Regions from separate parts of the Homo sapiens genome. Here region 2 is linked to region 1. Evidence: fine-mapped expression QTL. A gene starts in region 1. The other region holds a variant in brackets. All regions are shown on one strand. Distances are between the middles of the regions.

Region 1 (4,388 bases):
ACCAGGTAAATCTTTATCTGGTGGAAAGGCAGCATCTCATTTGACCTTTGAAAAAACGAAACATTCCAAGCCCAGGGAAAAGTGAATAATCTATAAAACAGTGACTCCCTACCACTCAGATTTAGTCATTTTTGAAATATTTGCTTTAAATATTTTCCTAAGAAATAAAACCTTGCAAATGTAGTTGAAGGACTCACCTCATATCCCTGAAGGCTGCCATGGTCTCCACCTGGTGCCCCAGACCCTCTGAGATTTTCCAAAAGTTCACGTGTAGCCGGCCTCCCTCCCTTTCCTTTTCCCAAATTCTAACACATGTGTGTGTTCGTAAGCCAGGCGGAGTTAGATTTTCTGTGTTTTACTAAACAGACAAATCATGTTGCAGGTTTCATTGTACACCTTGCTTTAACAAATGTGTCTTTGATATTGATCCAAATTGTTACACAGAGATGCAGCCCATTCATTTTAACTTCTTTGTAACTTTCCATCGGAGGGATAAGCTACATCCATTCTGGGTTTCTGTTTTCTTTATGACAACCAATTCTTCTTTCGGCACTTGGCTTGATACACGTGAGTGAGATGTTGTCAACTCTTCTCCAAAATGTCCTTGCACATTTACAATCTCATCTCCTGCAGGCTCCTGCGGTTTCCCTGCTCCGTCAACAACGGGTATTGTGGAACTTTGTACTTTTAGAAATCCCATGGATACAATGCGGCATCTCATTACAGTTTTAATTTTCTTGATTAACAGTGTGGGGGAACATATTTTCTGTGCTTGTTAACTAGCTCTTCAAGCTCCCTGGTTTATAATGATCTGTCCTTGTCCTTCACTCAGGCTCCTGTAGAGGAGACGAAATCATTTTTCTTAATGATTCATAGCAATGCTGTGTATGTTTTGAATATGAGTTTTTGTTTTTCATATGTGTCACAAATATCTTCTGGATCTGTGGCTTTCATTTTCCTCAGAACATGCTCTGTGATACAGGAGATTTATTTTTCATGTGGTCGTTTTAAAATTGATTTTTGGCCCAGCACGGTGGCTCACGCCTGTAATCCCAGCACTTTGGGAGACCGAGGCAGGCGGATCACCTGAGGTCAGGGGTTCAAGACCAGCCTGGTCAACACGGTGAAACTGCGTCTCTACTAAAAATATAAAAATTAGCCAGTCGTGGTGGCGGGCGCCTATAATCCCAGCTACTCGGGAGACTGAGGCAGGAGAATCGCTTGAACCCGGGAGGCGGAGGTTGCAATGAGCCGAGATCAAGCCATTGCACTCTAACCTGGACGACAGAGTGGGATTCCATCTCAATCAATCAATCAATCAATTTTTACTTTTCGGATTGTGTATAAGAAACTCTTTCTGTTCTTAGGTCGTAAAGACCGTCTCCATCGCTTCTTCCGTTCGTGCGGTGGCCTCTCCTCTCACCATGGTGGCCTGGAGGCACCCAGATTTCTCTGGCCACGCGGCGCTCCAAGTCAGGAGTCAGCGCACAAGCCACGCGCGGACACCAGAACAGCCTGGAGGAAAAGCAGCCTCGTTCTGTTACCTTCTGCTGGTTACCCAGAGCCCGGTCCCTGCAGCCTGTGGGGAGAGACACAGACCCCCACTCTGCATCCGGGCGGAGTCACCCAGCGTTTACCCGCGTGTATTTCAAACTGCCGCAAGGACTACGTTTACTTTTCTCGCCCTGCTTCCGTGTTCTGCCATTTTTGAGGTCTCCACCACGGTCCCCTGGCCCCGGCCTAGACCCGGGCCTTTCCCCAGGGGTCCTGCTCCTCCGTGGCCCTGGACCGCTTGGCCCCTGTGCTCCTCTTTCCCTGGCTCCAGGATGCAGCCAGCTTCTCTTCAAGAAACTCAACCCCGGCTTGTGTTACCCCGAGGGTGTTTCCAGGCGTGCGAGGGGTGTGAGGGGTGGGACTGCACAGCGCGTCCCAGCCTCGGTCCCGGGCCCGGCCCCGGCAGACTCTGGAGAAGCCCAGGAGCGCGTGTCCCCGCCGGCCCCGCTCAGCCTGACCTGCTTTTCCCCACAGAGGTGCCGGGGTTCGGTGCAGTCTGGCCGTGTCCTCCTCTTCTCGCGGTTTCAGATTCTTCTTGCGTGACATTTTATCACACAAGACCGTGTTCGGGGATGGGGTGTTCTGAGCACGCCCTTACCGAGCCAGGCTCACCCAGTTCCCCATCTAGAGCTCCCTGCTGGCATCTCTCACCTGGGACCCCAGCCTGCAAGACTCCGACACCCACGCCCTTAGGGTGATGTGGCCGCGCCCAGCCTGCGCTCAGCACCACGGGAGGGAGGGCGGCAGGCGGAAGCCCCGGCCATCTTGGGAAGGGCCTTTTGGGACCGTGTGTTCCGCTGAGAACCACAGACCCATGCTTCAGACGCTACAGATTTCTCTCTCAAATGCCTGGATTCAAAATATAAAAGTGTGTTTGAGCAAACAGCAAAATATTTGGGAAATTCTCCCAGCGAGGCTTCTAATGACCCCGTAGGAAAAGCCAGGCTGCTCCCTGCTGCGCCTCCAGCGAACTTCCCACCGGGCAGGACTCTGGGAAGAAGAGCAAAGGGTTCTATTTTGCGTAGAATTTAAATAAAATTGCTTCACAGACGGGAAACGTCAAGCAAGCAGCACTCTGAGCCCATGCGTGCTTTTAATGCCTGAATGACATCGCAATTCAGTCTGAGTTCCCGCCTGGGCTCAGGGCCTTCTGAACTGCCGGGGGCTGTGAAATGGTTTATAATCAGAAGAGAAGCAGTGAGAGTTTAGATCCAAGATCCAAGGAAGTGTTTTCAGACTCAGTGTTAGCACATTTGTGTCTATACCAGTCCAGGCAGGAGGCTGAGGCAGAAGAATCGCTTGAACCCAGAAGGCAGAGGTTGCAGTGAGCCGAGATCGTGCCACTGCACTCCAGCCTGGGCAACAGAGCGAGACTCCATCTCAAAAAAAAAAAAAAAAAAAAAAAAACCACCATCAGATCTCGTGAGAAAGTACTGTCAGAATAGCCTGGGGGAAAACCACCCCCATGATTTAGTTACCTCCCACTGGCTCCCTCCCATGACACATGGGGATTATGGGAGCTACAATTCAAGATGAGATTTGGGTGAGGACACGGCCAAACCATATCAGGCTTCCACCCTCATAAACAGATTAATGTCATTATCGAGAGAGTGGGTTTGTTACCTCAAGAGTGGGGTTTCTAAAGTGAGCCTGGCCTCTCCTGCTCGGACTCAGGCCCTGGCTCCTGCCCTCCATCCTTCTCCCATGGGATGACCTTTGCCAGATGCCAGCACCATTGTCCTGGACTTTGTAGTCTCCAGAACTGCGAATGAAATAAATCTCATTTCTTTATAAATTACCCAGCCGGTGGCATTTCATTACAGCAGCAGAAAACAGAATAAGACAGTGGTCCTCTCTGTTATTTCTTGGTGTCTGTTTTTATGAATTTAAGGACATAATTATAGATTTTCTATTCATTAGCTTCTTTAGGTTTATTCTGTTATTCTCTGATGTTTTAAGTCAAGCTTTATTTTAAAGTTTTTCTTACTTCCTACATATGTTAAAGGTGACACATTTTCATGTAAATGAGGGATTTCTGCTAACCGTAGCTTACGGGAACAGAGCCACACCTCTTCATTTTCATACTGCCTGTGTTCGCTTTCTGACCAATCCAGCAGAGAAGAGGAGATGCAACAGAGACTATCCCACAAAGCCAAATATATTTTTATTTTTGTTTGTAAAAAATATTAGTAATAATATTTTTAAATGGGAAATGATCATCATCTGCACTTGTGAAATGCCATGTGGTATTTGGATGTATGTGCAAAACATGGAGTGATTAATTAAAGCCAATTAATATATCCATTGATTCTCTTAGTTATTTTGAAATATACAACACATTATTGTTAACCAGAGTCACCTGCTTTGCAGTAGGTCTCAAGCATGCTACTACCTGCCCCTCCACAAGACAGTTTTGCTAGTCACCTGCTTTGCAATAGGCCTCAAGCACACTACTACCTGCCCCTCCACAGAGACAGTTTGCTGACCCTTCCTAGGTGAAGCATTCTCTGCATTCACTCCAGAAGTCTCAATATGCAGCATTTATGTGGTCATTGTGTTTCAAATATTTTCAAATTTTGATTGTAATCTTCCTTGATTTACGATTCCTTCAGAAATAGGTTTTTATGGTTCCATATTTATGGGGCTGTTTTTCTCATTATTTCTAATTTCGATATGTGGAGTTCAGAGAATGTAGTCCATAAATACTTATTTTTTTAGTAATTGTTGGAATTTTTCTAAATGTCTCATGAATGCTTGATTCTTAGGTTCACAGATTTGAAGCAGCTATTATAGAAAACTTATTAATTATCTTGACAAGAATCCTTCGCTACTAA
Region 2 (4,388 bases), 20 kb before region 1:
ATGCACTACTGCACCCAGCTAATTCTTTTTTGTTTCTTCGTGGAGACAGGATTTCACCAAGTTGCCAAGGCTGAGCTCCATCTACATTTTCTTCTAAGACTTTTTAATGTTTTACTTTCATAGATAGTTGATCAGCGTTGAACTCATTATAATTAGGCATGAGGAAGAAACATTTTTTTAATTCCAAGTGGTCAGTTAGGTTAATACCAATAAAATAAATTATCCTTTCTCCATAAGATTAAGAAACCACAATTAGCTGAGTTTCCATAACAAAATGGACCTAGATTTTCTCTTAGACGGGGTCTTGCTTTGTCTCTCAGGCTGGAGCAGTGTGGTGCAGTGATGGCTCACTGTAGCCTCAACCTCCCAGGCTCAAGAGATCCTCTCACCTCAGCCTCCTGAGTAGCTGGGACTACAGGTACACACCACCACACCCGGATAATTTAACTTTTTGTGGAGACAGGGTTTCTCCATGTTGCCCAGGCTGGTCTGAAACTCCTGGGCTCAAGTGATCCTCCTGCCTTGGCCTCCCAAAGTGCTAGAGGTGTGAGCCACCACACCCAGCTAGATATTTCTATGACTTGTTCTAGGCATCTAGTCATTGATCCCTGGGCCAAAGCTGCTCTGTATTGAGCTTTTTATCTAATAAGGTGAGTGCCCCCTCACTGTTAGCTCTTTAAAAAAATATTTTCAGATAAAGAGCTGGCTGTTCCTTTAGGTGAATTTTAACATTATCTGTACCATATCAAAGAAAACTCCGCTCCGATTCTATTTGGGATTGCTTTCTTTTCATAGTTAGATTAAGTAATAAAATACTGAAGAGAAATCATATTTTTATAGTGTCAAGTTTTCCTAGTAATCCCAAATTTCTTTCTATTCATTCAGGTCTTTCTCTTAGGCTATCAGCACCATTTCATATTTTTCTTCTTATGAGATCTGTGCCTTTTTCATTTAGTTCCCTGCAGTGTGTATGGCTTATGCTGCCATTTTTGAATGGGAGATTATTATCCAGTTCCATGTCTAACTGTTTGCTGCTAGTGTAGAAAAAAAAATGGTTTCTTTTTGGTCGTTTTATATCCAGTCATCCTAAGAGTCACACTTTGCTAGTGTAATATGCTTACTCTGTGCCGTTACTAAAAGCATGAGAAGATGAAAATTCAGAAGCCAGCTGAGAAGAGACCTCTCAAGTGTGTTTGTAACTGTGATCTTCACAGATGCCAACCCTTCCCGGAAATGCTGGCCCAGGCTCTCTGAAATTCACATCCTAGACATCAAGGCATTCAATGCCTTTGGTGTGTGCACATACATGTATGTGTGTGCACATGGGTGTGTATGAATGTCACACACACCCCAGGGAATACAGTCATCACAGGCGGTAGACAGGCAATCAAGGTCCGAGCACCCCACAACTTCACAGGTGTTGAAAGTGAGGCTGGTCTGGCTCTTGCTGAAGGAAGGGCCCGGGAGCAAGTTCAGAAACCCCAAAGTCAAATGTCCACCATAGGCAAGGCATGCACAGAAACAAACAGGACACGTTCTAACAGCAAAATGCAAAATTAATGAGGGGTGTAAATAGGCAATTTAAAGAAGAGGAACTGTTGATAGAAGTTCAAACTCATTTTTATGAATAATTATGTGTCTGATTGACTTGCTGTCTTTCACATATTTGATTGGCAATGCTTAAAATAATTGTCAGGGGAAATACAAGGCAACAAGAGCTCCTGACATTGATGGTGACAATTAGATTTGCAGCCTTTCTTTGGAAATAAATGGAAAATGTCTATTAATATTAAACAGACACATTCCCTTGGACTCAGAAGCCCCAGAGGGGTGGCCATCTGGGGGATGAGTGGGGTCAGGGTGCCCCTCACCCAATTCTAAAGCCATGTTTCTCCTTCCCCCTCCAGCTGTCAGCATGGATGCCCAGCCCTTCCCACCGTCATGCCCTCCACTTTTCCTTCCTCCCTGTCTTCCCTCTACCTTTCTCCCCATCAACTCTTCCCCATTCACCAAGGTGTATCCAAATACCCCCTCCTCCATGAAGCCTTCCCTGCTCCAGCCCTCGAGGCCCCAGTCACCCCCTGCCCTGGTGTCCATGCAGCCATCCGAGGGGGTAGGTCTGCCTGCTGCCTTGATGCCTGATGCCTCGGGGGCCTCTTCCCTCAATGAAGGCTTAGGGCCCTGGACAGGGACTCTGCCTCTTCTCCATGGACCCCTTGGCAGTGCCCATCAGAGGGGTGGGCACATGGGCCTCCATGCCACACATAGGCAGTGGATTCAGCTTGATCCCTAGGCAGATGCTTCCCTGGGCTTGCATATGGGAGCCGGGGTGGGTGTGGAGCAGAGCAGTAGCCTCCATGGGAGAAGATGCCTGGGGCCTGCAGGCGGGTGGGAGCAGTTCTGAAGGAGGAGGGAAAGCAGGGCCACCTTGGAGACTTCACTGGGGTCTCTGCCCTGGACCTGAGCCAGGGAGGGTGCGTAGGAGCCCCCTGGAGAGCCGGGCATGGAGGGAAGTGAGTCCAGGCCGGA[G/A]GGTGCTGGGACCACCAGCAGCGTGTTAGCAGGGGCAGGGAGGCCGGGGACGCCCCGTAGCAAGTGAGCAGGCAGATGGAGCAGGCTGCCGGGCTCCTGGTACGCACAGCTGGGCCACCCCTGCCAGCAGAGCAGGAGAATCCTGCGTCCCCCCACAGCACTGCAGAGCAGGGAGTTTAGAAAATGCCCGGAATCTCAGTAAACTCTCCCTGCCTCCTCATCCCATGATCCTCAGCCAGCAGTTTGGAGCCGTGAGTTTGCATTTTTCAGAAGGCTCAATCCCTGCTGTGGGCATGAATTATACGGATGCTCCGGATGCCGAGGACAGCCTTTGTCTTCTTGGTGCACTGCAAAGGTGAGCGTCCCTGTGACCTTTTGCTAACAAAAGACTCTTCTCCCAAGTCCTCTCCCGGACATCAGACACCCCGGGCCGGCAGAGGACACAGACTTGCCATTGCCGGGCGGACCCACTGAGCGGTGTGACCTGCCCCAGGGGCCTCAGAGGAAGACGGCTGGTGTGTCCCTGAGACAGGAGAGACGCATTGCCACAGGCTCCCCAGAAACAAGGTCCCCAAATGCCACTGTCGGCTGCTGAGGTACAGGGAAGTGCTTGGTGGAGACCACGCTCGCCAGGCTGCCCTGCAGCCAAAAGGCAGAGGCTGAGCAGGAACGCAGCCTCCGCTGAGGGCCACGTGGTGAAATCAAGTATCTGGGCCTGGGAAAGACATTTCTGGGGAGTCTGTGTGCTGCGGTCTGGCAGCACCGAGTCCGCTGTGTGCGGGGGGCTGGTAGGACTGGCCTCCTGAAAGGAGGGGAGAGATCAGCGTGCTTGGAGGGAGACCAACTCCCAAAAGGAACAAGGTTGGAGGGGGCAAGGCAGCTTCAGAGCCTGGCTCCAGCCCTGGAGACAGAAAGACCAGTTTAAATTCCCACCCGGCCCGCACCCTCTGGGGGGCCGTGGGACTTTGGGGAGCCTCTTTGGTCCTTAGTTTTATCTTCTGTGGAACAGACGCAATAATCCGTATTTAGTTGGGGGTAATTAGTCGACGTATGTGGATAGGTGGACACGCAGTACACTTGGTGATGGTGGCCGTCTTCACCCCTCTCTCCCTGGTTTCCCTAAGAGAGGCATCTCTTTCCGCCCTTCTCCCCTGAAACTTGGGGTGTGAAGTGTAAGATGCTGGATCTCACAGACAGGAGCCCACCACCGACCCAGAGACATCGTGGCCAGTTTTGAAATCTTCAGTCTCAGAGGACACTCATGGGCTCTGCGATGCTGGGTGGGTCGTGTGCCCACCCTGAGCTCCTTCCTTTGCTCCTAAAGACAGGAGTGATGCTTCCTGCCTCCGCGTTACACAGGCATCGTGAGGCTGCACATGACAGCAGCTGCCCAGCTCCAGGTCAGTGGTGGCATGGAAGAGCTCCAGCTCCAAGCTGCACACACCCTACTTGAGACGCCGTTGTTCTGAGTCCACCGTGCCAGGTGGAGTCCTTCCGTCCCCAACCCTTGCCCTAGGGCCCTCAGTGCTGGTGGCTCCATGAGGTACTTCTTTCTGTAGTGGGTGTGAGATTCATGAGTGAGATGCCCCCAGCCCTGCTCCAGGGCAGCCTTGCCAGTTTCTGGAATGTTCTCCATTTCCAGTCTGCAGCTTCCTTCTGCCCAGGAGTGGCTTCCCTGTCTGGCTGTCATTCAGCTCAATTCTGTACTTAACTTCAAAATGTGCATAAAATCCTAAAATGGGACGTTTCTCAGTTGACGTCCTCCACCTCCAGCTCCTCTCACATGGAAGCAGGTGGGGGCCTCACGGTGTTCTAGAGTTTGCAGGGGGCAGAGAGCAGCATCCTCACCGCAGATATCC

Evidence for each region. PIP is the estimated chance that this variant, and not a neighbour inherited with it, causes the effect.
Region 2: its variant is the best candidate, but not a certain one, in a credible set for the expression of NHIP in tibial artery (GTEx, PIP 0.86).

What each region holds. Positions count from the first base shown.
Region 1 is chr22:49,050,159-49,054,546 of GRCh38, forward strand. NHIP (neuronal hypoxia inducible, placenta associated) reads right to left here and starts at 2,227. Exons shown (of 4, transcript NR_183584.1): 1 at 198-2,227; 2 at 1-45. RefSeq lists an enhancer at 2,194-2,273.
Region 2 is chr22:49,029,864-49,034,251 of GRCh38, forward strand. No RefSeq gene overlaps it. Among named protein-coding and RNA genes, the nearest start is that of NHIP, 20 kb to the right of the region's middle. The variant G/A (reference allele first, on the strand shown) is at 2,530.